Linked DNA regions of Homo sapiens. The protein of the gene in region 1 interacts with the protein of each later gene in a biochemical or structural test. Each region holds a gene or a part of one and is shown in the gene's direction. Other genes may lie near its edges. The genes, in order: SPP1, ITGB5, ITGAV and ITGB1.

Evidence for each region.
Region 2: the proteins of SPP1 (region 1) and ITGB5 form a complex in vitro, tested with the Homo sapiens proteins (one study listed by BioGRID).
Region 3: the proteins of SPP1 (region 1) and ITGAV form a complex in vitro, tested with the Homo sapiens proteins (one study listed by BioGRID).
Region 4: the proteins of SPP1 (region 1) and ITGB1 form a complex in vitro, tested with the Homo sapiens proteins (one study listed by BioGRID).

Annotation. Positions count from the first base shown.
Region 1 is NC_000004.12:87,970,748-87,978,713, forward strand, and holds the start of SPP1 (osteopontin isoform OPN-a precursor), read left to right. Parts: upstream 1-4,966; 5' UTR 4,967-5,053; intron 5,054-6,134; 5' UTR 6,135-6,148; coding exon 6,149-6,202; intron 6,203-6,311; coding exon 6,312-6,350; intron 6,351-6,914; exon of another isoform or gene 6,915-6,971; coding exon of another isoform or gene 6,972-7,103; intron 7,104-7,966. UniProt on the Homo sapiens protein: Major non-collagenous bone protein that binds tightly to hydroxyapatite. Appears to form an integral part of the mineralized matrix. Probably important to cell-matrix interaction.
Region 2 is NC_000003.12:124,877,351-124,884,376, reverse strand, and holds part of ITGB5 (integrin beta-5 isoform a precursor), read left to right. Parts: intron 1-2,516; exon of another isoform or gene 2,517-2,534; intron 2,535-5,687; exon of another isoform or gene 5,688-5,774; intron 5,775-7,026.
Region 3 is NC_000002.12:186,586,049-186,593,067, forward strand, and holds the start of ITGAV (integrin alpha-V isoform 1 preproprotein), read left to right. Parts: upstream 1-4,007; 5' UTR 4,008-4,290; coding exon 4,291-4,475; intron 4,476-7,019.
Region 4 is NC_000010.11:32,948,205-32,955,230, reverse strand, and holds part of ITGB1 (integrin beta-1 isoform 1A precursor), read left to right. Parts: intron 1-7,026.

The DNA of each region.
Region 1 (7,966 bases):
GCCAGACCCCAGAGGACCTCATGTTATGTAAGAAATAGCAATCACCTGGGCAGTCCTTTTTAGGCACAGGAAGCATGCCTGAAGTTCTCAGGTGTAATTCACTCAAGCGGAACACTATCTATATTGGAATCTGAAGACGTTTAATTCAGGAGGCCGGGAGCGGTGGTTGATGCCTGTAATCCCAGCACTTTGGGAGGCTGAGGTGGGCCAATCACTCAAGGCCAGGAGTTTGAGACCACCCTGGCCAACATGATAAAATTTCATCTCTACTAAAAAAAAAAAAAAAAAAAAATTAGCTGGGCATGGTGGTGCATGCCTGTAATCCCAGCTACTTGGAAGGCTGAGGCACAAGAATCGCTTGAACCCAGGAGGCAGAGGTTGCAGTGAGCCGAGATCGTGCCACTGCACTTCAGCCTGGGTGACAGAGTGAGACACTGTCTCAAAAATAAATAAATATGTTTAATCTGGGGCTTTATGAAGGCAACAGAAAATAATCAGCAAGAATAACTCAATTTATGTAAGAACTATATACATGTCATAATTGAGCTAAATTTCTTCACTGAATAAATATTTTTGGCACATAATCTGCAGAGGGATTAGCATATCATGGAACTTACACTCTATGAGGAATTCAAACATTAAAGAAGAAATCAAATTTTAATATAGAATATTTTAAATTACAGGTTTAAGAAACATAAATGTTATGCTATGGGATAGGGGCATTAATGTAAACTATGCCTTGACAAGAATTGTCGAAACAAAAAACCTTAGCCAAGTGTAACCAGAAAAATATCTGACTGAGCTGCTTTTGTTGTCTAGTTTTACTCCCCTTTCTTTTGATTTTGTTTTCTCTTTTGCACTGAAATTGTCACCTTTTCATATCAACCTTATGATAGATTCTCTACCAAAAATTACTCAAACATCAGATTTTAAGCAAGAATTCTCATAAACCAATTTCGGAGAATGATTTTCTCCCCTCAAATATATCTGCAAAATGACTGTCACTGACCGCTTATTGCCACAAAATGTCTTTTTCTGAACAAACAAGGTCCTCCTGCAGCTGCTAGACTTTCTATTTGTGCTTTTCCACCTTGTTCTATCTCCCTCTTTGGATCCTCTCTGATTACAGCCTCCTCTATTGTTCCCCAGGTTGTTATAGGTCTCGAGTTTATGCTGCTGTGGTTGATGTTGAGTGGGAAGGGGGACTTTCTGTTTGGATCCAATCCCAGAATACCCATCCCTTCAACTCCAATGTGGACACAGGGTCTCTACCATATACCTTCTCTACCCAGGGTGCTGCCAAGTTTACTGTTTAGCCACACCCCCTTAATCTCATTGGTTACTCAAGTTTCAAATTTCCTAGTTGATTTTCATGAACAAATGGGCTCCATGAGGGTAAGAATGGTGTCATTTAAGAAAAAAAAGTTAGTAATTTAAGTCTACCTTAAAAAAGTCTATCATTTAAAGAGCATTAGAATGTCCTCAGAGTTACTAATACTACTTTAATGAAGAAATAAATGCTAGATTCTTGAGTACAGGCAGATATTAGATATCAATATATGAGATATACTCTGAATTCAAGCATAGTGCCTATGCATTGTATTCATAAGCAAAAACTATAAGGTCAGAATTCGTGTCATAGATGCAGGGCTGAGTGGGCAATCACCAACAATTTATTGAGCACTTACTCCATAACAGTTCTATGTGTCTAAAGGAAAACTTTTTTTTATTTGTTTTAAATTGAAACTAATGTTTACCAATGGTACGACCACTTTGTCAGGAGCTGACTTTTGTTGTCTAAGCTATTGAGCAATGGAATAAAAGAGTTTATGGTGTTTTTGTTTTTTTTTTTTTGTATTTCTGAAATGCTCTAATTTCATGTCTGAACTTGAAAATAGCACCCTCTTATCATCCACCTTTGCTTGCTACCCTGTGATAAATAATGCCCCTTTTCCCAGTCTATATATGATGAATGGTGCTAGGCTTCCGATTAGCTTTAATTCCAAACTTCTTTATGACAGATTAGTGGTGTTACCAAAATATCAGAGTCATGTCTGAACCTTGACTCAAGGGAAAAAAATAATTACCTGTGGAGCTGAAAACACTGAAATAGTTGGTTACACTTTACTAAGTAAAATATAATTAGAAATGTTCAAATAAACTGGAAGTGAGTTTAATAAAGTTGTCCACCAAAGTAGTGACATTGAACACTTACTTTTTATTATATGGGAATTTTCATGTAATTCAGGAAAAAGACCTTAAGGCTCTTTATTTGTTTCCATGTGTCCTCTTAGTGTGTATAATTTAAGATCACAAATTACTCTTTGCATTCTAGTTTGACAACTAAACTTTTTTTACTTTCCACTCACAAGATTTATAGGGAATTTGTGCATTTTGACCTTTTGATTCTAACAACCAATCATTAGCCAATCAAGAATGGAAACTTTGGAAATATTACAGATAGAGCCACTGTGATTTAAATCATTTAACATGTTAATTCTGACAGAAAATCCTACTCAGAAAAAACAACCAGCAGCAGCATGTTTGAGTGCAAACAGCAAGAAACATCCCAAAACATGACCTCCCCGATAGTCAGAATGACGCAGCATCCATTTCCTACTTTACAGAATTGCCTCCCATTATAAATCACTTTATCTTCTCAACTCCAAAGCATCCCAGACACATTCTTTACCCGTGAATTCACAAGCCTTTTCTCTGAGAGAGGCCTTGGGACTAGGAACTTTTTGAATGAGTGTAGAAGTCGGGAAGGAGACAATAGTGTCAACTTGGGATTGCCTAAGGCAACAACAGAGCAAAACAAGAACGCTTTGGTTCTCTGGGTCTCTGTCCCTGATTGCATAGCGGGTCATTGTTGGGAAATATTTCCTCACCTGGCATTCCAAGAAATGGAGAGCTCCACAGCTGTATATAGTCCTGTCATTAAATACAGGAGTGTTCTATCCCGCTGGAATTAAGAAAATTGGTAGAACCAGATTGTGGTCTGAAATCTTTTTTCAGAAATGCTGCCATCGTGTGGCACTGCGGAGCTATGACCAGAAGAGTCCTGTAAAGGGTCGTATGGTTCATCTCAAGATGGCTGGGCTCCAGCATAATCTATTCCTATAATTAATTCTAGCTTCATATTGAATCATTCCCGTGGGCACAGAGTAAACTACAGTAAATCCTGTGGAAATTTTGTTGTTTTTAGAATTTTCAGACTTCCCTCCACTAAATTGACAACATGACACGCTTATGCGGGTATGTTTAAAGGAAAAAAATAGTTTTTAGAAGCAGAAAAAAGAAGTCTATTTTGCAACTTTATAATCTGTGTGCTTTCTATTTTATAGAGATAGTCGTCATCTTACTTATTAAAATGGGTGCTTATTACCTACAAACCAATCATATCAATTCATCTGGAATACATCCAATTTAAGGGAGACATATTTCCCCCTACCAAATGTTCATGAAACCTATGAATTAGCTATACACTATCACTGCAAGACATTATTTAATCTATATTTATATTAAAAGTAATATTTGGCAAAAGGAAGCTGACACTTTAGGACTAATAAAAACCACAATTACTTTTGCAGCAACCTAATAATAAATAGGACCATTTATTTTTCATCTCAATTACACACAAGTCTTAACAATAAAGGTGTAAGGTAAATAAATAGTGCAATCTGCATTTCACAACTGAGAAAGCAAATGAAGATAAGTAATCTCAAGGCAATATTAAATATTTTAAAAGGACCCAGAGCTCTGCTATCCCTGAATTCTGCTCTAATATTCGGACTTTCCCTGTAATTTTCTTTCATTCAGACACCTTTTAAATACCTAGTAAAGTGTTTTTTAATACAGAAATTTTTAAAAATGTTTTTCTTTTTAAGTGGCCTACTTTACATACCTTGGGAGAAAAACTAGAAAAAAAGATGATTCCAAAATCGAATCTGTTCCTTTAGAAATGTGCAAAATTTCCTTATTGATGCATACAATTTAAAGATCTTACGTCTACTCTCATTTTAATAACCTGTTCTTTTAAAGGACATTACAATTCGTGACTGCCTGCCCCTCTTAAAAATTTCATAATAGTTAACACACATATAGTCCTTAAGATACGCAGAGCATTTGCATCTAATATGTGCTAAGCATTGCTAGTTTAACATACTAATTCATTTAAACCCCTCAAAAACCCCATGACCTAGGTAATAGTATTGCATTTCATGGATGAGGGAACAAGGATAGGTAGGCTGGGCGATTTGCCCAAGGTTGCACAGGTCAGCAGTGACACAGCGGAATTCAGAACCACGGTCTGGCTCCTGAAGCAGCCCTCTCAAGCAGTCATCCTGCTCTCAGTCAGAAACTGCTTTACTTCTGCAACATCTAGAATAAATTACCATTCTTCTATTTCATATAGAATTTTATATTTTAATGTCACTAGTGCCATTTGTCTAAGTAACAAGCTACTGCATACTCGAAATCACAAAGCTAAGCTTGAGTAGTAAAGGACAGAGGCAAGTTTTCTGAACTCCTTGCAGGCTTGAACAATAGCCTTCTGGCTCTTCAATAAGTACAATCATACAGGCAAGAGTGGTTGCAGATATTACCTTTATGTTACTTAAACCGAAAGAAACAAAAATCCATTCTATTTAATTTTACATTAATGTTTTTCCCTACTTTCTCCCTTTTTCATGGGATCCCTAAGTGCTCTTCCTGGATGCTGAATGCCCATCCCGTAAATGAAAAAGCTAGTTAATGATATTGTACATAAGTAATGTTTTAACTGTAGATTGTGTGTGTGCGTTTTTGTTTTTTTTTGTTTTAACCACAAAACCAGAGGGGGAAGTGTGGGAGCAGGTGGGCTGGGCAGTGGCAGAAAACCTCATGACACAATCTCTCCGCCTCCCTGTGTTGGTGGAGGATGTCTGCAGCAGCATTTAAATTCTGGGAGGGCTTGGTTGTCAGCAGCAGCAGGAGGAGGCAGAGCACAGCATCGTCGGGACCAGACTCGTCTCAGGCCAGTTGCAGCCTTCTCAGCCAAACGCCGACCAAGGTACAGCTTCAGTTTGCTACTGGGTTGTGCATTCAGCTGAATTTCATGGGGAAGTCCAAATTCTAAGGAAAAATATTTTTAATTGTAATGCTGTTAAACAGACTTAAATTTTCTAGCCTTTTTAATAAGCAGATTAGATACATTGCAGGTCTCCTGGAACAAAGGTGTCTAGATATTTTGAATGCCAATCAAATTTAAAACTTAAAAATACTTCCACTGGGTCCTCAAAAGAACGGAAACCACCGATGCTAATCAGAAAATAGTAAAATTAAATTCCCCTTTGGAATAATTATACCTATATAATTTTCAGTGGGTGACTGTGCAGGAATTTAAAAGAAAAGGGATCTTTTATGCTAATTAAACCAATTACAATGCTATTTTTTAAATGATGTATCTCACTTTTAAGGGGAAGAAAACCCTTTCTGAATATGCCACTGCTAAATTTAGCTGTTAAAATATTCACCAAGATACCTGTATGACACTGTGTAGGCTTATTATTACAAATAGAAAAGCTGTTGGCTATTTTCAATGTTTTCCTTTGAATTTCAAATTTTTAGAACATCTTACTTAAATAACAAATTTCAGAGATAGTTTGATTTCACCTAAGTAGCACCTACTTGATAATTAAGCTAAAAGTCACATTTAAAGTACATGTTGGAAAAATGGATAAAGCAAATTTTTTTCATTTTTTTCTGTGAGTTTTTTCTTCTCTAAAAAATATTCCCATACTAGCTTATTAATATAATTAAGTTACTGTTGATCTGTTTGTAGGTTTAGAGAGCTAGATATATAAGGTAGTAATGGTATAATTTCTGGAACTCTAAATTTTAAAGTTGAATAAATACAGACTTGCAAAATTTCCCTTTCCCTTGCCTAATAGTGAAAGATGGATAATAGGTGGCAATATAAATATTAACTTGAAAGACTATAATACTAAAAAGAAAAGGCATCTCTAAGAAGTAGAAAAGATTCTATAGAAAATATATTTTATTTGTGATCATTTTGTAATGTGGTAGTATAAAAAGGTATCACTGTTGTAACCTATGAAGATGTCAGCTATTCCTTATGAAATATTTTGCAGGAAAACTCACTACCATGAGAATTGCAGTGATTTGCTTTTGCCTCCTAGGCATCACCTGTGCCATACCAGTGAGTACAGTTGCATCTTAAAGAAAATTCCTGAAAATAACTGAATTGTGTGCTTCCATGTGCTAGGAGGACATTCTTGTAATCTTTCTTCATCTTTTCTGTTTCTAAGGTTAAACAGGCTGATTCTGGAAGTTCTGAGGAAAAGCAGGTAAGCATCTTTTATGTTTTTATATAGTTAAATCATTTACTCAATTATGGCGAGAGGTGCAAGAAACGTATTTGCTGCGATATTACTTATCTTCTCAGTCAAATCCATTGGTTTACAAGTATTGATTGACTGCCTGCTATGAATCTAGGCCAGTACCAAGCACAGTATAGTTTTTAATAAATATAAGTTTATAAAACCAACCCAGATATTTTAAATATAATAATATCTAGGCATGTATGATGAGTTATCGCATGTAAGATAAGTTATATGAAGTTGTGTGACTTTTTTTCCATTAGTCCACATACTGATCTAAAAGCAGAAAATTCCAGCTTTTGCTTTGTTTAGTGGATTGCTAAGTTTAAAATTCACATTGGATATTAGTCAGAACTGTTTGTATGACCATAATATTCACAATATTGTCTGAGATATTAGCTGAGAAGCCCATTGTGAAAAGAAAGTCTATGTGTGCTGTTTGTATCTATTGTGATTGTCAGCTGATGTTAGATCACATTTTCTAACCAAACATAAGACCAACCAAACTCTTTATTATAATTATTTGACCAGCACTAAAGATGTACCTACCCCTCCACAACAGATGAAACTGTGCCAGCCAAACAACAAATGGGCATTGTCCCCAGAAGCTTGGACAAAAAGGCACACAGAGTTCAATTCCAGTTGAACAGAATAAAGGCCAAAATAGAGCTGCCTTGGGGGTCACTGCAATTAGACTGCTTAATGAAGACATTAAAAGAAGTATTCTGTGTTCGTTTGTGTGTGGAGGGGTGTGTGTGTCTGTTTTTCAACTGATTTGAAAATACAGGTGTTGAATCCTAATAATAAACCAGAAAAATTAACATCTCCAGAGAAGATAGAGGTCATACTATTTGAGGCAAGAATTAGCGTCTTTTTAATAAACGAAAATATGGCAAAGATGCATTTTAGAAGGCACGTGGAGCTATAACAATTTAAGAAATACGTGAAGAGCTCAAGGCTCAGCCTTCTAGAATCCCAGAAACTTAAAGCTAGTAAAAAATTGGGGAAGTCTCTAAGGATATATGCCTGAAAATACACACTGGTTATCTGTGAGTGTTAGGATTACTGGGTGGTTTTTAGTCTATTCATTTTGCTTACCTTTATTTTCTTCATATTAGTTTTTAAAAATTATAAATGTAACTTATACATCCATTCTCTCTGAGCCTGTATTACATGTGTCATGAGAATAGATAGATAGATATGAAAAAGTGAAGAGAAAAACTCTGAACTCATCTGGTCTCACTGTTTTTCCGCCTTCTTTTTTTTTTTTTTTTTTTTTTTTTGAGACGGAGTCTCGCTCCGTCGCCCAGGCTGGAGTGCAGTGGTGTGATCTCGGCTCACTGCAAGCTCCGCCTCCCAGGTTCACCCCATTCTCCTGAGTAGCTGGGACTACAGGCGCCCGCCACCACGCCCGGATAATTTTTTGTATTTTTAGTAGAGACGGGGTTTCACCGTGTTAGCCAGGATGGTCTCCATCTCCTGACCTCGTGATCCACCCTCCTTGGCCTCCCAAAGTGCTGGGATTACAGGCGTGAGCCACTGCGCCCGGCTGTTTTTTCATCTTCTTAAAGCAAGGAACCCCT
Region 2 (7,026 bases), on another chromosome or scaffold:
TGGAGCAAGCCATGGCACTGGCCTCCAGAACTTGCTGCTTACCTCTTAGGGCCCTGAAGCTTCTCAGGATTAGCAGAGGTTGACTCACATCTGTGTCATTTCTCCTAGTTTTTCAGTGTTGCTGAATTAACTTCAACATTCTTTTTTTTTTTCTTTTTTTTTTTTGCTTCCCTTCCCTTCTTTGTTTTCTTGAAGCACTACAGGTACTTTATTCAGGGAGTGTTTCTGTCTTGCCACTAGGAACATTATTTGAAAGAAAAAAACCTAGTTACTCAGAGAAAAGAAAGAGATGACCCTCAGGGCCATGCCTGCCTGGGTGTTCCTGGACCAGTGGTTGAGTGCCTCTCTCTGTTGCTCTAACCCCACTTTCATCTCAGTACGGATTTCCAGCAGGAAACTGACCTTAGGTTTCAGGGGCTCATTTCAAACAAGTCCCTGGCCGGCTGACAACCCCCTCCCGTCCCCACCAAGGGCTATCTCCTGCTCTTTTTATTATCTTATGGCCAAGAGCCTTCAGACAGAATCCTAGGATGTGGTCTTCCCACAAAACCAGGGGTCTCACTGAGGTGAGGCTTTTCCACGCTGCCTTTGCTAAGACAGAGAGAGGAACACCGTCTTATAAAGAGGATCCTGCAACACCGCTGGAATTATGTGTGCTATCACATTCATTTCTTTTTAAAAAAGCAATCGAATGTTCTTCTAGTGAATGCTCTGCACATCCTAAGAAAGCCCTTTGTTTTATTTAGTGGACTCATGTTGGCAGCACCCTTCCTCTACCCCCAACCCCCTACCACATTTCCTGTGGTCTGTGATGGGGTTGTTGGAATTTGGCTGGGTCTGCAGCTCTCTGTAGGTAACCAGGCACAGGTTTAGAGCTGACAGGACAATGAAATACAAACAGTGGGTTTGGTCTGTAGACTGCTGTTTATCCTATGGATTTACATTTTAACTCCATCATCCTTGAGTTGGGGGAGCTTTTTATAAAGGGGATTGAGGCAGAAGAGGGCAGGGTCTAATTAGCTCTAATTAGTATTCCCCGCCTGCTTGTTCTCCATGCTTATTTAGCTACTGAGGCAACGGGGAATTAAAATATCTAAGTAGTTTGGCAAAAGGCCTTTTGTGCCTGCGTGGCCTGGTAACTACTTTTTCTTATTCAGCCTGGCCATGGAAATATTCTGAGATGCTTTAACGATATCAGTAATGTGGGACAATTACAAACTACTTAAATAATAGGGCCCCTTTCACATGGCAGTGTGCAGCTGGGTTAATGGGATAGGGTCTCTTTTCACAGGTATTTCCAGTTGGCTGGAGCCGAGGGCCTTGGAGAACTGACTGCCGTGGTTTGTTTTCCTTCTTTCCGGTTCGAATGGGATTAATGGCCTCTATAAATGTAAAGGAATGCTTTATTTAGAGGCACCCATTTGTTTCTGAGGCTTCTTGCTTCCGTTGAATGCAGGGTTTACTTCCCGGGCCTCATGGTGAAAAGTTTGCTCTAAGACAGGCTTGACTCATCCCCTAAGGCTGATGCTTTGAAGGCACTGCGGGGTACCCTGCCCTCTCTTTATAGGATTCCCTCCCCAACTCCAGCCAGACATTTTCAGAGCTGGTTGTCTCTTGTAGAGCTGGGACCTACTTCTGCAACTTGTTCTCTTTAGTTATTCTCAACTGTCCCTCAGAGTGATCCTGAGATCCAACTCAAGTCAGATCATATCTCTCTGCTTAAAACCTTCGAATGGTTTCCCAGAGTCCTGCCAGGCTCCACGAACTCTCCACCTACTTCTCTGACTTTCCTTCACCACTTTCCCTTCGATCCTTTGCTCCAGCAGCATGGGCCTCCCACTGTCCCTTCAGCGTGCCAGCCATGCTCCCATGGCAGCCCTTCTCCCTGCCTGGAATACTGTCCTCCAAGATATCTGCATGACCGGCTTCCTCCACCCTGCAACCCTTTTTCTAGCATCTCCTGCTCAGCCAAGTTTTCCCTGGCCGCTCCCAGCTAAAGCTGCAACCTCCTCCCTATATCCCGAGTTCTTTTTATCTGCTTTTCTTCTTTAATTTTTGTCCTTAGCACTCACCACCATCTAATGTAACTACATATCTTCTTCACTATTTCCCCTAAGTAGAATTCTCCCCCAGCCAGGATGTGAGCTCCGTGAATAAGGGAGTCTTGTTGGTTTTATTCATCTCTGTATCCTCCATGCCTACAACAGCACCAGGCACATATTTGTTGAATGAATAATGGATGAACCTGAATCTTGGTAATTGGGAGGTGAAGAGGGCGATGCATCCCGTCCTCAACTCCCTGTTGCCTTCCACAGCTAGCTTTGAAGTCAGGGACTATGCATGCGGCTTGTTAGGAAGAAACATCCTGGGAGAAAGAGATTCTGTTGGAATGTGTCAGGATTTTTTTTTTAATTGGAGTCTCACTCTGTTGCCCAGGCTGGAGTGCAGTGGTGCAATCTCTGGTCACCGCAACCTCTGCCTCCCAGGTTCAAGCGATTCTCCTGCCTCAGCCTCCCGAGTAGCTGGGATTACAGGCGTACACCACCGCACCTGGCTTATTTTTTAATTTTTAGTAGAGATGGGGTTTCACCATGTTGGCCAGGCTGGTCTTGAACTCCTGACCTCAGGTGATCTGCCCACCTTGGCCTCCCAAAGTGCTGGGATTACAGGCATGAGCCACCACTCCTGGCTTTGTGTTAGGATTTTTTGAGCTGGTATGGAGGCCATTTGGTCTACTCCCTGAGTTGTTTGCATGAGGAAGCTGAGGCCTGGAAAGGTTAAGTGACTTGCCCTAGGTCACATAACCAATAAGTGACAGAACAAGTCCTCTGATCTTTTATACCCAGTATATCCTGTTCTCCTTCCCTACATCCCTGGGTGGAGCAGAACTATCTCCTCCTCCTCCTGCTTTCATGGCCCATTCCATTAGAGAGACTGGGGGCTGCAGCTGGTCTGTCTCACCTGCTACCTGGTTAATAGCCCTGGTCTTATTTACCTGTGTCCCTGACACAGCCACAATGCTTGGTACTCAGATGATCCCTTCTCTCACCCCAGGATTTTAATGGGCTTAGAAAAACTTTATTTAAAAGATTTGGCCAGGCAGGGTGGCTCACACCTATCATCCCAGCACTTTGGGAGGCCGAGGCAGGCAGATTACCTGAGGTCAGGAGTTCGAGACCACCCTGGCCAACATGGCAAAATCCAGTCTCTACTAAAAATACAAAAATTAGCCAGGCATGGTGGTGTGCACCTGTAATCCCAGCTACTCAGGAGGCTGAGGCAGGAGGATCGCTTGAACTTTGGAGGCCGAGGTTGCAGTGAGCTGAGATCACACCACCGTACTCTAGCCTGGGAGACAGAGACTCTGTCTCAAACAAACAAACAAACAAACAAACTTTTACATATGTACTTTTTCTTTTCTTTTTCCCTTTCTTTTTTATTTTATTTTGAGATGGAGTCTCACTCTGTTGCCCAGGCTGGAGTACAGTGGTGTGATCTTGACTCACTGCAACCTCTGCCTCCTAGGTTCAAGCCATTCTCATGCCTCAGCCTTCCAAGTAGCTGGGATCACAGGCACGTGCCACCATGCCTGGCTAATTTTTTGTATTTTTAGTAAAGATAGGGTTTCACGATGTAGGCCAGGTTGGTCTTGAACTCCTGACCTCAGGTGATCTGCCTGCCTCAGCCTCCCAGAGTGTTGGGATTACAGGCATGAGCCACTGTGCCCGGTGTCTCTTTTATTTATTTATTTATTTTTTAAAAAAAGACAGAATCTCGCTCTGTCACCCAAGTTGGAGTGCATTAGCGTGATCATGGCCCACTGTAGCTTGAACTCCTGGGCTCAACTGCTCCTCCCACCTGGTCCTTGCAAATTGTTGGGATCACAGAAGTGAGCCAGTGTGCCTGGCCCTTAAAAAAGCCTTCAAAGAATTTAGAGCAGTTTTAGATTTCCAGAAAAATTGAGAAGATAGTGCAAAGAGTTCCCATCTACCTCACACCCAGTTTTGCCTATTATTAACATCTTACATTAGTATGGTACCTTTATTATAATTAATGAACCATATTGATATGTTATTATTAACTAAAGTCCATCAGTTTAGATTTCTTTAGTGTTTACCTAAGTCCTTTTTCTGTTCTAGGATCCCATCCAAGATACCACAATACATTGAGTTGTCATGTCACCTTGGGTTCCCATGGCTGTGACAGTTTCTCAGTCTTTTCCTTGTTTTTTATGACCTTGACAGTTTTAAGAAGCACTGGTCAGATATTTTGTAGATCATCCCCCTCTTGGGATTTTCTGATTTTTTCCCGTGATTAGACAGAGTTAGGTGATTTTGGAAGAAGAACATAGAGGTAATCAATTGCCTCTTTAAAAAAATACCTTTTGATAGGTAATATAGTCCCATAATTTTTAAAAGTATAACTCATATCAAGCGAGAAGCCTCTCTTTCTTGTTGCCCATCAGTGTGGGATATTTCTGTGACCCCCTTTTCTAAATAAATTGTGCCTATATAGTTCCTATTATAAAGCTAATAAGCTTTCTTATGTATCCTGAGGGTTTCTATGGATATGTTACGAATATCCCTCTTTCATTTTTATTCAGAGGCAGCACAAAACACAGTATGTATCTTGCTTTTTATTTTTAACTTAGCGATGTATTGGGGTAAGCTTCCTGTCAATACAGAGAGCATGCTCATTCTTTCTTTATAGCTGTCTAGCACTCCATTATATGAATTGGTGTTTTAAAAATAGAAGTCAGATCTGTAAGGCTGGTATTGTTGAGTGTTGTGCAGATGTCTGATGTTCATAAAGGCAGTCTTGAATGAGAACTGCTGGGATAGAACCTTCCTAGGGCATATTTGCATTTCATGGTAACATTTAGACATATGGCTATTTAGTTGCTGGAGTCTATACTGGGACTCTTTTGTCCATTGTGTGACAAATGTGAGGGCCTGGTTCAGGGTGTGGGGAGAAGCATTCCAGGGCATTGCCATCTTCAAGGCAGAAAGGCCATTTCAGCTTCTGTATTCACTTCTGTTATCCTACTGAATATTTTGGATCAGGAAATTCCAACTGCAGATGTATGTTTTAGTAGTAGTTGTCTGACCTTGGACCCATGGGGTGTACAGAAGTGGAGAGAGGCTGAATGGAAGGAGGCCAGCCAGGAGGCTATGGCAGGAATTTAGACCAGAGGGCCTGGCTTGGGTTGTTGGGGCTAGAGGTTGCAGACAGGAAGGGTTGGCTTAGGATAAACATTTCTTGCATCTTGAAAGGAGTGATCAACCGGATGCGGTGGCTCCTTGAATGATTGATGAAACACAGGGGTGAGTCAGTGAATTTTGGAAGAACATATTTTTAGATTACAGTTTGCAGTAAACACTGGGCTTCAGAGACGTGAGGCAAAAGAGATACATGGAGTTGCCACCGAGCTGGGAATAGTCACTATGCAAACAGCAAAGAAGATGAGATGTGGCTATCATCTGGGCTGCTAGTTCCTGTTTCCATGACCTAGACCTAACACTGACATTTGTGAACTCCGTGTGTTTAGTTTTTTATTCATTGCTTCCTTCCTTTTCAAAATGCTTATTGGTGCCAAATGACTCATCCAGCAAAGTCCAAACTCTGAAATATTAATAGGTGGAGAGAGGAGAGATGCCAAAGGGAGTGAGTCTGACATTACACATACCAGCACACAGCCTGTGGTTTTGGATCCTGGAGTACCTGTCTGGTACCTGGTACCCGGCACACTGTGAGTTCCTGGACATCAAGGGCTGGTAGGTCATTCACCTGTGCATTTCTAGCATCCCCCCAGTCCAGTGCTCAGCGTTTAGGGTGTGTTAAGTGCAGAGTTTCTTGAATTTGAATGTGTCCCAACAGCAACTGAATTTTAGGGCAATCATTTTGAGTACAAACGACTTTACTTTTCCATGTGAATATTTAATAATAACAGAAACAGTTAGTAATGCTATATGACAAATTGTTTTACAGTTGTTCATGATGTTTTCATACCAGGTGACTATCACATCCTTTGAGTTTCTTTGGTATTGTGTCCAATTAAGTAAGGGCTTTTAGGCTGGTGGACCAGAAGACCAGAGCTCAGTCTGATCTGCATCAGAATTGAGGAGCTCTTATTGTCCTGAGCCCTGGACCTCCAGCCCAAGTTCCCAGAGCTCATGATGAGGCTCTGGTAATTATAAAGTGTTGTTTGCAAATGTATGTGGCTTTGAAGCTGGATACGGTGGCTCACGTCTATAATCCCAGCACTTTGGGAGGCTGAAGTGGGCAGATCACTTGAAGTCAGGAGTCGAAGTCAGAAGACCAGCCTGTCCAACATGCTGAAACCCTATCTCTATTAAAAATACAAAAATTAGCCAGGCGTGATGGCATATGCCTGTAATCTCAGCTATTCAGGAGGCTGAGGCAGGAGAATCACTTGAACTTGGGAAGCAAGGTTGCAGTGAGCCAAGATCATGCCCCTGCAGTCCAGCTTGGGCAACAAAGCAAGACTCTGTCTAAAAAAAAAAATTATGTGGCTTTGATCAGAGTCCTACGTGAGGCCTTTGACCTCAAATTCCTTTCTGATAAAGGGGCTGTTACAGATCTCCAGAGGACCCTAGAGCTCAGCAGGTCACACCAGCCCTACATCCAAGATGGCAGAGGGACCACCAGGCAGGTATCCCATGTGGGCACTTGCTGGTCAGGACCCCGTCTGACCTCTTTTTTGTAGATAGGGCTCCTTGTTTCAAGTCACATACTCTCATTATCTTACATTTTCATCTATAAAAAGAGGCAACTTGACTAGCTCATCTTAAAACAATCCTAGCCCCAAGGTGCTATAATCTCATGATTTTATGAAAATGATTTTATATATCAAAGAAAAGGATATGCCACAACGAGCCTGAGTTTGTATTTGATAAGGTTGAGGAGAGGAGGAGCAAAGTTACTTTCATTCTAGATTTATTTTTTTTCCCCTGCAGATAGTGATTGCTGACAGGTACGGGGATTTGACCAAAAAATGGGACTGAC
Region 3 (7,019 bases), on another chromosome or scaffold:
TTTAGTGGGTTAAAGTCTCCAGAGAAATTGAGAGTAGAAGAAGCAGATTTCTGAAGTTCCCATGGGTTATTAACTGAATCTCCTTTGAGGTTCTTTGAGAGAGATAAAATTTGAAATTCCTCTTAAATTATGGACTAAGTTCCTTTGTTTGCAGAGACAGAGCTGCGTGAAGCCCTGGTTTGATTATGGTTATTGAAGGACCTGTTGGACAGACACTAGGGGAACTAAGAGAGTGAAATAATAGTCATAAAAATTTACGGCAGGAGAATTGCTTGAACCCAGGACGCGGAGGTTGCAGTGAGCTGACATGGCGCCACTGCACTCCAGCCTGGTGACAGAGTGACACTTTGTTTCAAAAAAAAAAATTTATTATTGCTACCATGCTAAACTATTAGTCTTAAAAGTATTAATGGCAACAAGAACTGTTCAATTCTAAGAGATAGACATAGTATTACTCCCCTTTCCCTTTCATAGATAAGAAAACTGAGGCACAGATTGGTTGGATTGATTTCCCCAGGGTCATACAACTAGTAGTTGGCAAAGCCAGGAATGGAACCCAGGTGCTTTATTTTACAGAAACCACTGGAATCAAGATTTTTACTAAAGTATAGGGTAGTAGAGGATAAAATTCAAAGTACAAATTCTTTTTACTATCTAATATTTTATTTTCTAAGAAAAGGATTATATTCAATGAATACTTAATGTATACACAGAAGTTCTCCTTTTAAGTTGGAAAACTGTTATAATGTAGTTCAAAGAGTAGTGTCATGGGGGTAGGGGAGGGGCACCACCATTCTTTCGTAGACTAAAACATTCTTTTCTCTGTCCCATGCACATAGTACCAGGTGCAATGTGGATTTTGAATCAGCACTAGCTGAATTGACATGTTCTACAATACAATTTGCAAGGCACTGTGTGAGTGGCTGCTCGAGCATGGTCACACAAAGAGATGCCTGCATTTATAACCCCAAGTTTCTAAAGCCACTGGGTTAGTCTGCTTCATAGTTTCCTAATTGAAATGTATGTTTGCTTTTTTTTGTTGTTAGACAGTCTCGCTCTGTCACCCAGGCTGGAGCACAGTGGCCCACAATACCACAATATCTCGGCTCACTGTAGCCTCTGCCTTCCGGGTTCAAGCAATTCTCCTGCCTCAGTCTCCTGAGTAGCTGAGATTACAGGCACACACCACCATGCCTGGCTACTGTTTTTTCTTTTTTGAGATGGAGTCTCATTCTGTCATCCAGGCTGAAGTGCAGTGGCACGATCTTGGCTCACTGAAACCTCTGCTTCCCAGGTTCAAGTGATTCTCCTGCCTCAGCCTCCCAAGTAGCTGGGATTACAGGTGCCTGCCACTGCACCCAGCTAATTTTTGTATTTTTAGTAGAGATAGGCTTTCACCATCTTGGCCAGGCTGGTCTTGAACTCCTGACATCGTGATCCACCCACTTTGGACTCCCAAAGTGCTGGGATTACAGGTGTGAGTGAGCCACTGCGCCCGGCCAATTTTTGTATTTTTAGTAGAGACGGGGTTTCACTGTGTTGGCCAGGCTGGTCTTGAACTCCTGACCTCAGGTGATCCACCCACCTCGGCCTCCCAAAATGCTGGGATTACAGGCATGAGCCACAGTGCCTGGACTATTTGCTTTTTTAAAAAAAACAAATTCCTTGATTTTCAAGACTGCTCATTCAAAATAAACTCATAAAGAATGGCTCAACAGTAAGTGCTTTCAGTAAGTTGTAGCCCTATTTGGGGGTGTGTTGTTCACCCAAGTTTTGGTGGGTGTACATGTGTTGTCATTTCGTGGGCTTCTTCTTTTCCCTGGTCCTCTCACATTTCTTCACTCCACCTTGGTCTGTCGGACCCCTGTCCTGCGATCAGAAGTTGAGGAGTGGGAGACTTACTGGATCTAGCCAGAGTTTAAACTCTTCTGTCTTCCTTACCTGGATGGATTTCCAGGTAGACTGGTTGTCATGTTTTTAAGATATAAAAGACCCTTTGGGTTTATGCATACATATCAATAGCCTCTTTGGTGTATTAGGAAAGAAGGTGAGAAATAAGCTGTATTTGCATTTATGTGTAAGGATTTGTGTAGGATTTCTTCTCTCAATCAGTAATTTCTTTCAGGCAGATGCTAGACCATGCCTTGTAAAACATGCCAAAGGTTTTGCTGCATATCTTTTAGTCAAATTTAAAAATGGAAATATTTAATGCATTTTTTTTTTGAGATGGAGTCTCACTCTGTGGCCCAGGCTGGAGTGCAGTGGCACCATCTCAGCTTACTGCAGCCTCCGCCTTCCGGGTTCAAGCAATTCTCCTGCCTCAGCCTCCTGAGTAGCTGGGACTGCAGGCGCATGCCGCCACGCCCGGCTAATTTTTTGTATTTTAGTAGAGACGGGATTTCACTGTGTTGCCCAGGCTGGTCTCGAACTCCCGAGCTCAGGCAATTTGCCGGCCTCAGCCTCCCAAAGTGCTAGGACTACAGGCATGAGCCACCTCGCCCGGCCTTTTTTTTTTTTAAACACAGGGTCTTGTTCTGTCACTCAGGCTGGAGTGCAGTGGCAGGCTCATGACTTATCATAACCTGGAACTCCTGAGCCTAAGCGATCTATCTACCTGCCTTAGCCTCCGGCATAGCTGGGACTACAGGCATGCACCACACTCCCAGCTAATTTTTAAATTTTTGTAGAGATGAGGTCTCCCTATGTTCCCCTGGAACTCCCGGTCTCAAGCAATCCTCCTGCCTCAGTCTCCCAAAGTGCTGAGATTGCCAGCATGAGCACCTGGACCTGGTCCAATAAATATTACAAATTCGAATTAGGCATTTCACTTTCATTTATATACATATCCTTTCACAGGATTATTTGATAGTTATTAATGTATATTATGATTGAGTTTTAATAGTTACTTTGGGAAAACAGAAATTACTGTTCCAGTACTTACTTGTAAGTTGTAAGTCCACACAATGCACTTAAACTTCACCTTGTTCAACAGATTCTGTAGCACATGAAACACTTGAAATATGGAAGAGTCACTTCTCTGGGCACTTTGCTCATTTCGTCTGCTATTCATTCACTGATTGGACATTTTATTGATCGACTACTATCTGCTTGGCAAGGTGCTAGAAATAAGAACACTAAGAAAAAGGTCAAGGTTCCTGTCCTCAAGGCCCTCTCTCTCAGTCCAGTGTTGTCAAGGCTTGATGAAACACACCAGTGGCAAACAAGCACGCGGGGCCTTATTTCACCGGTGTGCGGTCCTTCTTCCAGCTCTGAAATTATGTCTATCCAAACATCCTAAATCAACAAATCAGTGTTTCTAAATCATACAACCGCAGCTAACAAACTGGGAATAAGGCTTCGATTATTCTGACTTGATTTAAAACGATCACTGCCAATTCTTTGCCCTGCGAATCCTTTCTTTGACTACTAAGTTAAGCTTTACATACCTCACTTGCAAGAGGCTATGCTGGCTTTCTGGAAATCCGTAATTAAGTTCAGTGTTTGTGGAATGGAGTGTAATTAACGACCATTAATTAACAGGGTTTCGTTCGTGAGAGCCTGCCAGGCTAAGCAGCAGAAACACGAGAAACTGATAAAAAGCTTTCCTCATTTTTAAACAACAGTCGCACGGAAGTTCCCGGCGGGACAAGGGAACGTGGGTGCCCTTGCTACTCCCGTGGACGCGGGTAGATTGGGACGCTGGACCGTATCTCCCCGCCCCCGCCCCCACGCCTCCTCAGGTGCTCAGCCTGAGGCCTTCGTCCAGGAGCGCTGCCGCTGACCCAGGCTCAGGAGCTGGGGGCCCCTGCACAGACGCCCAGGTCTCGGGACAGGCGGCGACTGCACTCACGGAAGTACGCTGAGCTCTCCCCTGTAGAAGGGCGCCTCTCCTCCCCCACTTCCTCCTCCAGCTCCACAGCAGCCTCCCGGGCCGGCTCCTCCTCCTTCCAGGTCTCCTCCCAGTGCCGCCGCGGCTCTCAGGCCTGAGGTGCGGCGCTCACCCCGGCAGTCCCCAGCCTCAGACGCTGCGTGGAGCGGCGGAGCCGGAGGGAAGCAAAGGACCGTCTGCGCTGCTGTCCCCGCCCCGCGCGCTCTGCGCCCCTCGTCCCTGGCGGTCGCTCCGAAGCTCAGCCCTCTTGCCTGCCCCGGAGCTGTCCCGGGCTAGCCGAGAAGAGAGCGGCCGGCAAGTTTGGGCGCGCGCAGGCGGCGGGCCGCGGGCACTGGGCGCCTCGCTGGGGCGGGGGGAGGTGGCTACCGCTCCCGGCTTGGCGTCCCGCGCGCACTTCGGCGATGGCTTTTCCGCCGCGGCGACGGCTGCGCCTCGGTCCCCGCGGCCTCCCGCTTCTTCTCTCGGGACTCCTGCTACCTCTGTGCCGCGCCTTCAACCTAGACGTGGACAGTCCTGCCGAGTACTCTGGCCCCGAGGGAAGTTACTTCGGCTTCGCCGTGGATTTCTTCGTGCCCAGCGCGTCTTCGTAAGTGGCCGCACTTGGAACTGGAGCCGGCCCCCTCCCCCACCGCGCGCACCCACCCAGCGTTTCTCCATTGGGATTGATTTCCGAGAGATCCCGGCGTCTGTCTGTCTCACCCATCCTACCTCTCAGAGTGGTTTATATCCTGGGTGGAGGAAATATTTGGGGAAATGAACTCCCTTTGGTACCCATCACCCAGTTACACCCCGCTTCTCACCTCTTAAAATTGGTTAGGGGCAGCGGGAGAGCTTTGAAGCAGACCTGTGCTTAAAAATCGGGGAAAGTGGGAAATCAACAAAGGCTGGTCTTGCCGGACTCCCCGCCTCCTGTGCCAGTGTCGAGGATTTGGTCAATATCATCCCCGAACTTCTTTTTCTCCTCTACCAGTTAGGCTTCTTGGTAGCCTTTTTCTGCTTTACAGGCTTAACGCCCGTCCTTTTCAGTCTCCCTAAACAAGCCCTCCCCCACTCTTTCCGCCTCTGTCTGATTCTGTTTCTCCTTACTCCTTTTGCAGACATTCTGATGACTTAAAATGACCATACTGTCCTATTGAATTCATTGTGTCTTATCTCTGGGACTGTCAGACATTTGCACATTTGAGGTTGAACAGATGAATTGAATGTGTCATCTGTTCTTTTTATAGTGATTCACTATTTAGGTCATTGTTCAGAAGGAACAAGGGTGTTTGCTGAGTTTTCACTCGCTGCAGGTCATTTGAATACTGCAGTATTTAATAATTCAGTTATGTTTTCAAGTTGCCAACGTTCCGCGTTGCAAGGGCCGTCAGGATTTATAACAGTTATTGCCATTATTGTGTTAGAAATTGTCTCCGACTTTACTGAATGCTGACATCATTCTCACCACCCCACCCCCATGTTAGCGTTAGGAGTACTGTTTTAATGAATGTTGACTGTTTTTTTAATGATGTTTAAATCTTGTTTTCAAGAGAGAAACTGTTCTTAGGGTGCCTTCTAAACGCTTAGACCTTGTAACAACATATTTTTGTTTCCATATTTTCTGTATAAGATATCCCTTCGGGGTGAAGTGGAGGAAAATTTTGACGGTTAGTACGTGGATAGGACCATCTTCTACTACACACATGCCTAATTTGAGGGTGGTCTCAATGGTTTTCTATGACTGTTAGGACACTCAGCAGAATTTAGTCTTAGTGTTTTTCTGAATGTTACTGAGTATCATTCATTTTGGTAACAACCTTTGCAGCAATACATAGATTAGATGCAGTTAATGGAAACTTTGTTAGTGGAGACATTATTTTATGTAGCAAGCTTAGTTTTATTTGTTGTTAGCAGTTACAGTGCTTTCTGTGAGACCTGGAGCACAGATTTTCCAACATGATAAAAATAATCATTATTTAGGCAACATTTACCAATTTCACATTCCATTTAGTCATTTTAGTCAGCATTATCTTTTTATTTATTGTTTTTAACCACAGGGGTGAATACCAAACGTTATCTTTAAACATTTTTGTTTCCAGATACTTTCAAGTGTATACCTTCATGAGACAGAACATTTTAGTTGCTCCCAAGGGTTCAATGTGAGATATAATTTGTAGAGAAATTCTAATGATTTTGAAAATATATGTCTTCAGTCAAAAATTAGCATTTAAATACTTCAGGCCAGGCACAGTGGCTCACACCTGTAATCCCAGCACCTTGGGAGGCCAAGATGGGCAGATTGTCTGAGCTCAGGAATTTGAGACCAACCTGGGCAACATGGTGAAACCCTGTCACTACAAAAAAATACAAAAATTAACCGGGCATGGTGGTGCACACCTGTAATCCTCGCTCTGCGGGAGGCTGAGATGAGAGGATTGCTTGGAAAGTTGAGGTTGCAGTGAATGGAGATTGTGCCACCACACTGTGGCCTGGGCGATAGAGAGAGACTGTCTCAGAAACAAAAACAAAATCAAAAACAACAAACAATAACAACAACAAAATAAAGTTGATGGCAGTGTTTTACAATGTTACTGTTAATTCTTCAGCAGTGCTCTGAGTTTAGTGTAAGATAAATGAGAGGCTGATAAACTTTAAGTGTTTTTTTTTTTTCCATGAAAAATGCAGTGATGTTGAACTCTTCATGATATTTGCTACTGCTGATTACAAACCAGGGTGACTAATCTTTGGCCAGTCATTATAATCAATGAATGTGTTATGACCTCACAGGTTTACATGACTTCACTCATAGACCTTTAATGATAAAGTAAAATTGAACTTGGGTTTGGTTGCATATAATATTTTGAAATATTCATCAGCAACTTTGTTACCGATAGACTACAGAGCTCTAGGTATAGGTAACTTAAAAAATGGAAACCAACCTTGAATTTTTTTCTTTTTTCTTTTTAAACAAAACGTATATAAACACAGGTTTTTACTTACTGAGCTTTTCAGATTTAACAAAAATTTATGTAAAATTTTGCTGAATTTTCTAGAAGGGCACTTTAAATTTAACAAGCATTGGAATCCAAGGTACTTGGGATGCCATTTCCAATATTACCAGTTGGATTTATTGTTATTTGGTATTACCATA
Region 4 (7,026 bases), on another chromosome or scaffold:
TTTAGGTTCTGAGAGTTTGGCTGGTTATTTTTTCAGAGGTGGGAGGTATGGAGTAGAGACGTTAAGATACAGAAAGGTACATTCGTCTTCTGAATCCTGAAGTGTTATGCTAGAGGTATCTATAGCTGTGGAAAACTGAAAAGATATTATGGTATGTACCCAGCTTAAAGGGGGTACAGTCCGTAAAAGTCAGAATATTAGCAGCCTTCCAATATGTCTGTCGGTAGGTGAAAAAAAAAGTTTCTCTCTTTCAGGAGCTGTGTACAAAAGGATCCAAACTATACTTTGTACATTTGTTATTGTTTTAAAAGTGGCTGTGAGTTTTTAGAGGTCAGCTAACTTTAAACTTGCCGTTTGGTTTGTGACTTTAGAAGGTAGAGTTAACTATATTTAGCAATATGCTTAAGCGTGTGCATATCACCTCATGAAACGTGTGTGTGCATGAGAAAAGCTGCCTCCAGTACACATACATATGTATATACACACATACACACAAGCACATATATGTATGTATTTCTTATAGGACCAATCTCATTGTACATAATTTCAAAGCACAGGTTCCTATCTCCAGGGATGCATAAAAAGACTCACTGAAGTATAGGGAGAAAATTTTAGGTCTACTATTATGTTTGTTGATCTCATCACTTTAAAATTTAAAATTTTGATTATGATTGATAATCTTACTATATTGCTGTAGAAGTACATGTATCTGAATTTATAAATTGCATTTATTTTGGGTACAGGTATGCCTAGAATTTTTTTGCTGATAAAGGTGAGTGGTCAGAAAGCTTTGCAGATCCCTATATGGAGGATGATTTGAGTGGGGTTCAAGAACTACTGTATTTGGGAGGGAGAACTGATAAGACTTGATAAGAGAAATAAAAGAAACCCAGTGTGACACTGGTTTCTGGCTAGGAGGTGCTGTTCACTGAGGTGAGAGGGTGACCACAAGCTGGGGGTGCTGGTTGGCTGGAGCAGAGGGGAAATGATGACCTTATGAGGCCAAGTTTTTTTTTTTAAGGTGACCATGGGACATAGGTGGAGATGTCTAAATTGCAGTTGAATACACAGATTGAGAGCTTAAAAAAAGAAAAAACTCTGAGAGATTTCAATTTGACAATTCTTAGTCTATTGCTGGTTGAAGCTATAGGCTGTGCATGCAAACACCAAAGGAGGGTGTGGAGTGAAAAACGGGCTGAAGGAGGACCTGGGAACACTTTTAATAGTCAAGGGGGGGTGGAGGAAGAGGAATCTAGAAAAGCATTTACCTTCCCCAGTTTCTTCTCTGAACTTCTAATTCCTTTGAGTGGCATTTTTGTGAGTGACATAGGTATTTCTGGGTTTTTCCAGTGATTGGCATGTTTGAGTTAAAGACAGAAAGACTTCATTGGTCACATTTCTTTGTGGTAATTTATTTTCAGATACCTGATCAGAGAAGCAGTTTGATGTACTAAAGGCTTCTCGATTGGGAGACAGGAAACCTGGGTGTCAGTGCCGGGTCTGCCACTGAATTTCTGTGTGACCTTTGTCAGAGTACTGTACTTCCAGAGCGTTGGTTTCCACATCTACCCTATAAAGCAGCCTGCATGTTTCTCTCATTCTCTCGTTCGAGGAGTTGGAGGATAGCTGCTGCCTGATGTAAGTAGAGTGCAGTTCTCTCTCCATGAGCAACTTTTTTTTTTTTTGTATCACCAGAGAGTGTAGGCACTGTGCCACTTACTCTGTTAAGGATACCTGCCAGCGCTGACCAGCAACATCTGTCCCTGTCAGCTCTGCATCAGGATGTAGCTTGGCTGTACATTACATTTTATTCTATCAGTACATTGAGTACCAGTTACCTGAAAAATGCTTTACTCAGTGGACATGAATCAAGAAGTTGGCATGCTCTTTGATGTTGAGTCTGTTGTCTAATTGGAACAAGTTGTGTTCAGTTCAGGAAAACATAAATACCAAAGAGTGTTTTATACAATGTACTGTACCATAAAATACTGTACCATGTAATATTCCCTAACAATGTTAGAAAAATCTCAGCATTGGCTTGTGTGGTTTTGGAACACGTTGTGTAGGAGATGAGGCCTGAGCTTGGAATGGTATGAGCGAAGGTTGGATGACAGATGGTTGTCACATTCAAGGACAGCATGGGAAGAATCCAATCTAATTTCACAGATAGTACCTGGCCACTTTGTTACCTATTAGGAGTTATGTATAATATCATATATATCAGAAGGATATGTGAAGGCTATATAAAATGAAGGCCTGGGTTCTTGCCCTCCAATACTAGCCTGATGAGAGACACAGACATGAATACAATTAGTTACAATAGAAGTTTGAATAGAAATAACACTATATTATTAAGCATCACTGAAGATTTGTCATTCACTCTGCTGGGCACTATCAAAGCTGTTTTGGAACCACAGAGAAGGAGTAGTTAATTAAGTTGATTGTGGTTGGTGAGGAGATGAAGAGGCAATAAAGACAGAAAGGAAGAAGAAAAATCAGCATTCTATTTTGTGTAGGGAGTATAGTTTCAGTGGAGTGATGAGGAAAATATTTACATACGAAATTAGGTATGTACCATTTGGAGTATGGAAGTCACATTTTTCTGTATAAATGTTTATTGAATGAATATGTAAATAACTTAAGCTTTCGTAATCTATGAAATTAGCAATAGATTATTCTTCTCCATGTACAATATTTTATGGTTTATGTATGATTTTCTTCATATTATGATTTCAGTGCTTCTTTTAAAGGGGTGGTACAGGGTCATGTTTATTGGAGGAGGAAATTGGAGTTTGAAAAAGCACATTTGGTAGTATAATGTTATGTTAGAAAAATGTTACAAAAAAGTACAATAGGGAGTAAGATTTATGCTTATTAAAGAAGCATGGATTAAAAAGATTGAGAAACATTTATTAAAGAGTCACTGAGGTTCTTGTTTTAGAAGGCCATGATTAATGAGTTGGAGAACAAGAAGCAAATTTGGTAATCATGTAAATTATGAGCTGCTGACCACCTAGAAATATATTTGCTGATAAGAGCTTTCATATAATGATCATATTTTATCTTTCCAACAATTAGATACTGTTTACAGCTTACTGATGTGTAAAATGAGAAACTTTTTTTCCTATGTTTATCATGGTTTTAAAACATTTATCATGTATTTAAAATACTGTATGCACTCCACCACAGACAGGATGGAGAGGAAGATGTGACAAAAGATGTGGTCAAAATTAGTTTTAATCAAGGAAGCATTTTGGAATGATCTGCTTAAAAAGTGGATATAATTACGCAGTTTGAGAAGATAATTCTCCTTAATTGAAATTACGGGGAATAAGTCTTGCTCTCAGGTGCTTATTGATACCGTTGATCATGCTGGTTCTTTTGCTGGCTCCACTCACAATTATCTTTGACAACTTGCCCCAAAGTAAACTTTCTCAACCAAAACCGTTCCCAACTTCTTTCCTCCTCACAGGGAAAGGCAAAAAAGTCCGCAGGCATAGAGAGTGGAAAGAAGGAACAGCATACTAGGCTGGTTTGAAAAACAATCAATTGCTAGGTAATAATGTCTTACCTTTTGAGTGGAAGGAGGAGCTGGGAAGAATTAAGTTCGGGCAGGTTTTTTGCTCATTTTGGATCAGCCCTTCATATTATGGCTTAATAGCTTTGTTTATAGTGTATTTTTCTGCTTTTACGTTCATCCTCTGAAGTCTTGAGTTAATTTTGTGCCCCTTTACCCCCATTTGAATTAAATGCTTCATTTTTTTCCCGTTTCTCACATAAAGCTATTTTTTTTTCAGGACAGGGAGGGGCTGGTGGTGGTGGTGGTGCTGTACCAGTTGTCTGTTTATGAGATCACCATTAGACAACGTTTCTCATTGGCTTGAATTATTTGAATTTTGTGTGATTTTCCTGTTATGTTGATTCTGTTCTTGGTGTCTATGAGTTCTGTAGAGGATTCCAGCCTAAATTTTCTTCCTTAGTTCTGTTTACTTTTCCTCGACTTTTGTGGTTTTGCTCTTTGATCACTGTCAAGATCTATTTGAGATTTTCTGACTTTCTTGAAGAGCAGAATGAGATCTAGATTTTCTCTTATTTTTAAAGAAGATTCTTCACTGACTTCCTTTCACTTTTTGTTCTGTGGAAGTCTTTCCTAGGTGTTAAGTTTCCAGGCTTTACCTCCCCCTACCCCCAACGTATTATCTTTAGGCATTTTGTTTGCCAATGCGTACTATATCCATTATTTATCTTTCCCTTGCACTTGTAGATTGGGTGGTGATAAAAATCTTCCATATTTCATTTTCCTGGAGAAGGCGGGTAGAGTCACTAGTGATGAATTTTATCTTCAATCTGTTGTATAATTTTCTTAAAGTATCTCGCCGTGTTGTGAGCTGTTCTCAGATTTCAAATTGTTTTGTGAACCTATAGCTTTGGAGCAGCCAAACCTTTGTTGTTAGAGCTTCTTAGCCCAGGCTATCATTATCATTGTGTGAGAAGGGGTTAGTGCTCTTTAAAAAGCCATTTTTCTTCTGGGTGGGAGTGGTGAATTTTAGATGGTTTTCTAATTCAGACTACTTTTCTGTTTGTCAAGGAGAGGAGAAGAGGACTTCAAATGTGGTGTTACATCTTTGGGATCCCTTAGCCTCTTCTCTTTCATGTCTCCTTTTTTTTCTTCTCTATTCTTTCTGCGAAGTTTTGTTAATCATTAATGCTAGCTTATTAATATTTGGGCCATAAACACCTCTGTAGTGACCAACACACCTCTTCCTGCCAGATGGAAGGAAAAAAAGTGTTGAGTTTTAATTGTTCTTCCTGTAAGGGGAAAGGTTCCCTTTCCATGGGAGGAACTCATCTCCACATGTCACCCTCTCAGATGGTACAGAATTCAGAAAGATTTCTCAGTTTCTTCCATTCATGTTTTTCTCGTTTTTATTACTCTCTATGTGGGATAAGTGGGAGGAACCTCATGTCTTTCAATTTGGCTCTGTGTTCTTCTTCTGGAATATATTGATTTTTAAATACTAAAATCTGTTATTGGCCTATTTCTTCCCCTTTTAAAAGCAGATACAGAAAATAATGATGGTAGAACAGACTTGGGATGAATCCAAGTTTATTATAATTTTTAGGAGACATTTATGATATACCTCTATAGGTATCAGAATCTTTTCTACTATTAAGGTGAAAAGATTTGAGATTTTGTGAAATCTTTTGTGTATTCTTTTTATTTGAGTTGGCTTTTAGGTGGCTTATTTTTCAACTCTGAAATGAACATAACATGTTACATATGTTACATATGTTACAATTTTTTTCTAAAGTGTAGTTGTTTAATTTCTACAAAGATAGTCCATATAAAGTTTCTAAAGATTGTAAATTTAAAAGGAAATGCCAAATGAATTATTTGTAAAATTGTTTAAAAAAATTAATAAATAATGAGTGTGTATTTAAAAGTTTGAACATGATATAAAACCATACTTTTATGGATAAAGATTAGTTTACAGTGAAGATTAAAACAATTATGCACTATTTTTGACAGTGGAAACAATTGCACATATTTGGGTTAACCACTAAAATGAGATTATTTGTGGGTGGTGTTTAAGATTGTTTATTGTTCAGGGAATGAATTATGACCCCTTAGATAAAATTTCATATGGTAAAAAATGACCTTAAGGTGAAATGCTTTTATAGGAACAAGACACAAAACCTTTGTCTGTACTTATGAAATATGGCAATTAAAATAACTTTTCTTGGCCTCTATTAAGTTCAAATGCCCAAGAAATAAACTCATAGAACATTATAAGCCCTTTCCATTTCTGTGCCCTGAGTCAGTTCTAACACTAGAAGGATGTTCTTTGTTTTAAAATAGTGATTAAGTAGGCTTTGAAAAAATTACAGTTTAATGAAGTCAGGTCATAGCTTCTGGATACAGATGGTCAGGTTTCAATTCCACCTGTGCAACTTTTGATTCCACCATTGCAAGTTGTTTAGTCTCTCTGGTTTTGTTTCCTCATCTGTAAAACAAAGACACTATTATTCTTCACCTCATTGAGTTACCTGGAGGAGATAGATGCTATTATTTTATCATTATTATTATCATATCCATTTGAAGGTGCTGAAATAAAATTCTAATTTTTTAAAGTTCTAAATGAAATAACTTTTTGTTACAAATTACTTTAAATCATCAAAACTTAGTGTATTATACTCTTCTTCTTGCCTGTGCCTAGTCTGGCCCTCTCAATTGAGAAGTCAGTCTTTTTTTTTTTTTCAGTAATCCACAGTGAGCAGCAGTCCCTGAACGAAATCATATTGCTAGTTGGGTTTGATTAATAAAACACAGAATTGGTATTCTAGTCCTTTCAGGGGGGTTTGCTTCCTTGTGATGTAAGAACCTTGTCTTAGTCTTTGTGCTGCTATAACAGAATGCCACAGACTGGGTAATTTATGTCAGGGTTCTGGGGGCTGGGAAGTCCATTATCAAGGGGTTGGCATCTAATGTCTTTCTGTTGCATCATCCCATGGTAGAAGGTGGAAGGGCAAGAGAGTGAGAGAAGAGAAGGAGGCCAAACTCCGTCTTTTATCTGGAACCCATTCTCCACTCCTGTGGTAATAGCATTAATCCATTCATGTGGGCAGAGCCCTCATGACCTTATCACCTCTTAAAAGTCCCACCTCTCATCACTGTTGCTTTGGGGATTAAGTTTCCAACACGTGAACCTTGGGGACACGTTCAAAGCATAGCAAACCTCAAAGCTTCCTCCTTATTTCTGTTTGTATTAGGTATGTTATTCCCTCCCCTCAATCTTTTTTTAAGGGTTTCTGTGATATCAGTGTTCAGAGCATTTGTATTTTGTCTACTATGTTTTTATGATATTAGTGTTCAGAGCATTTGTATTTTGTCTAACATTTACTACCTTAAATATTTTGTCAGTATAAAATATTTAAGGTTTTGCTGCTTTTATTACTTTATGAACACATTTGTCAGGAATCTGATTGTTAGAAAGCACATTAAATAGAATTCTACTTGGATGTGGA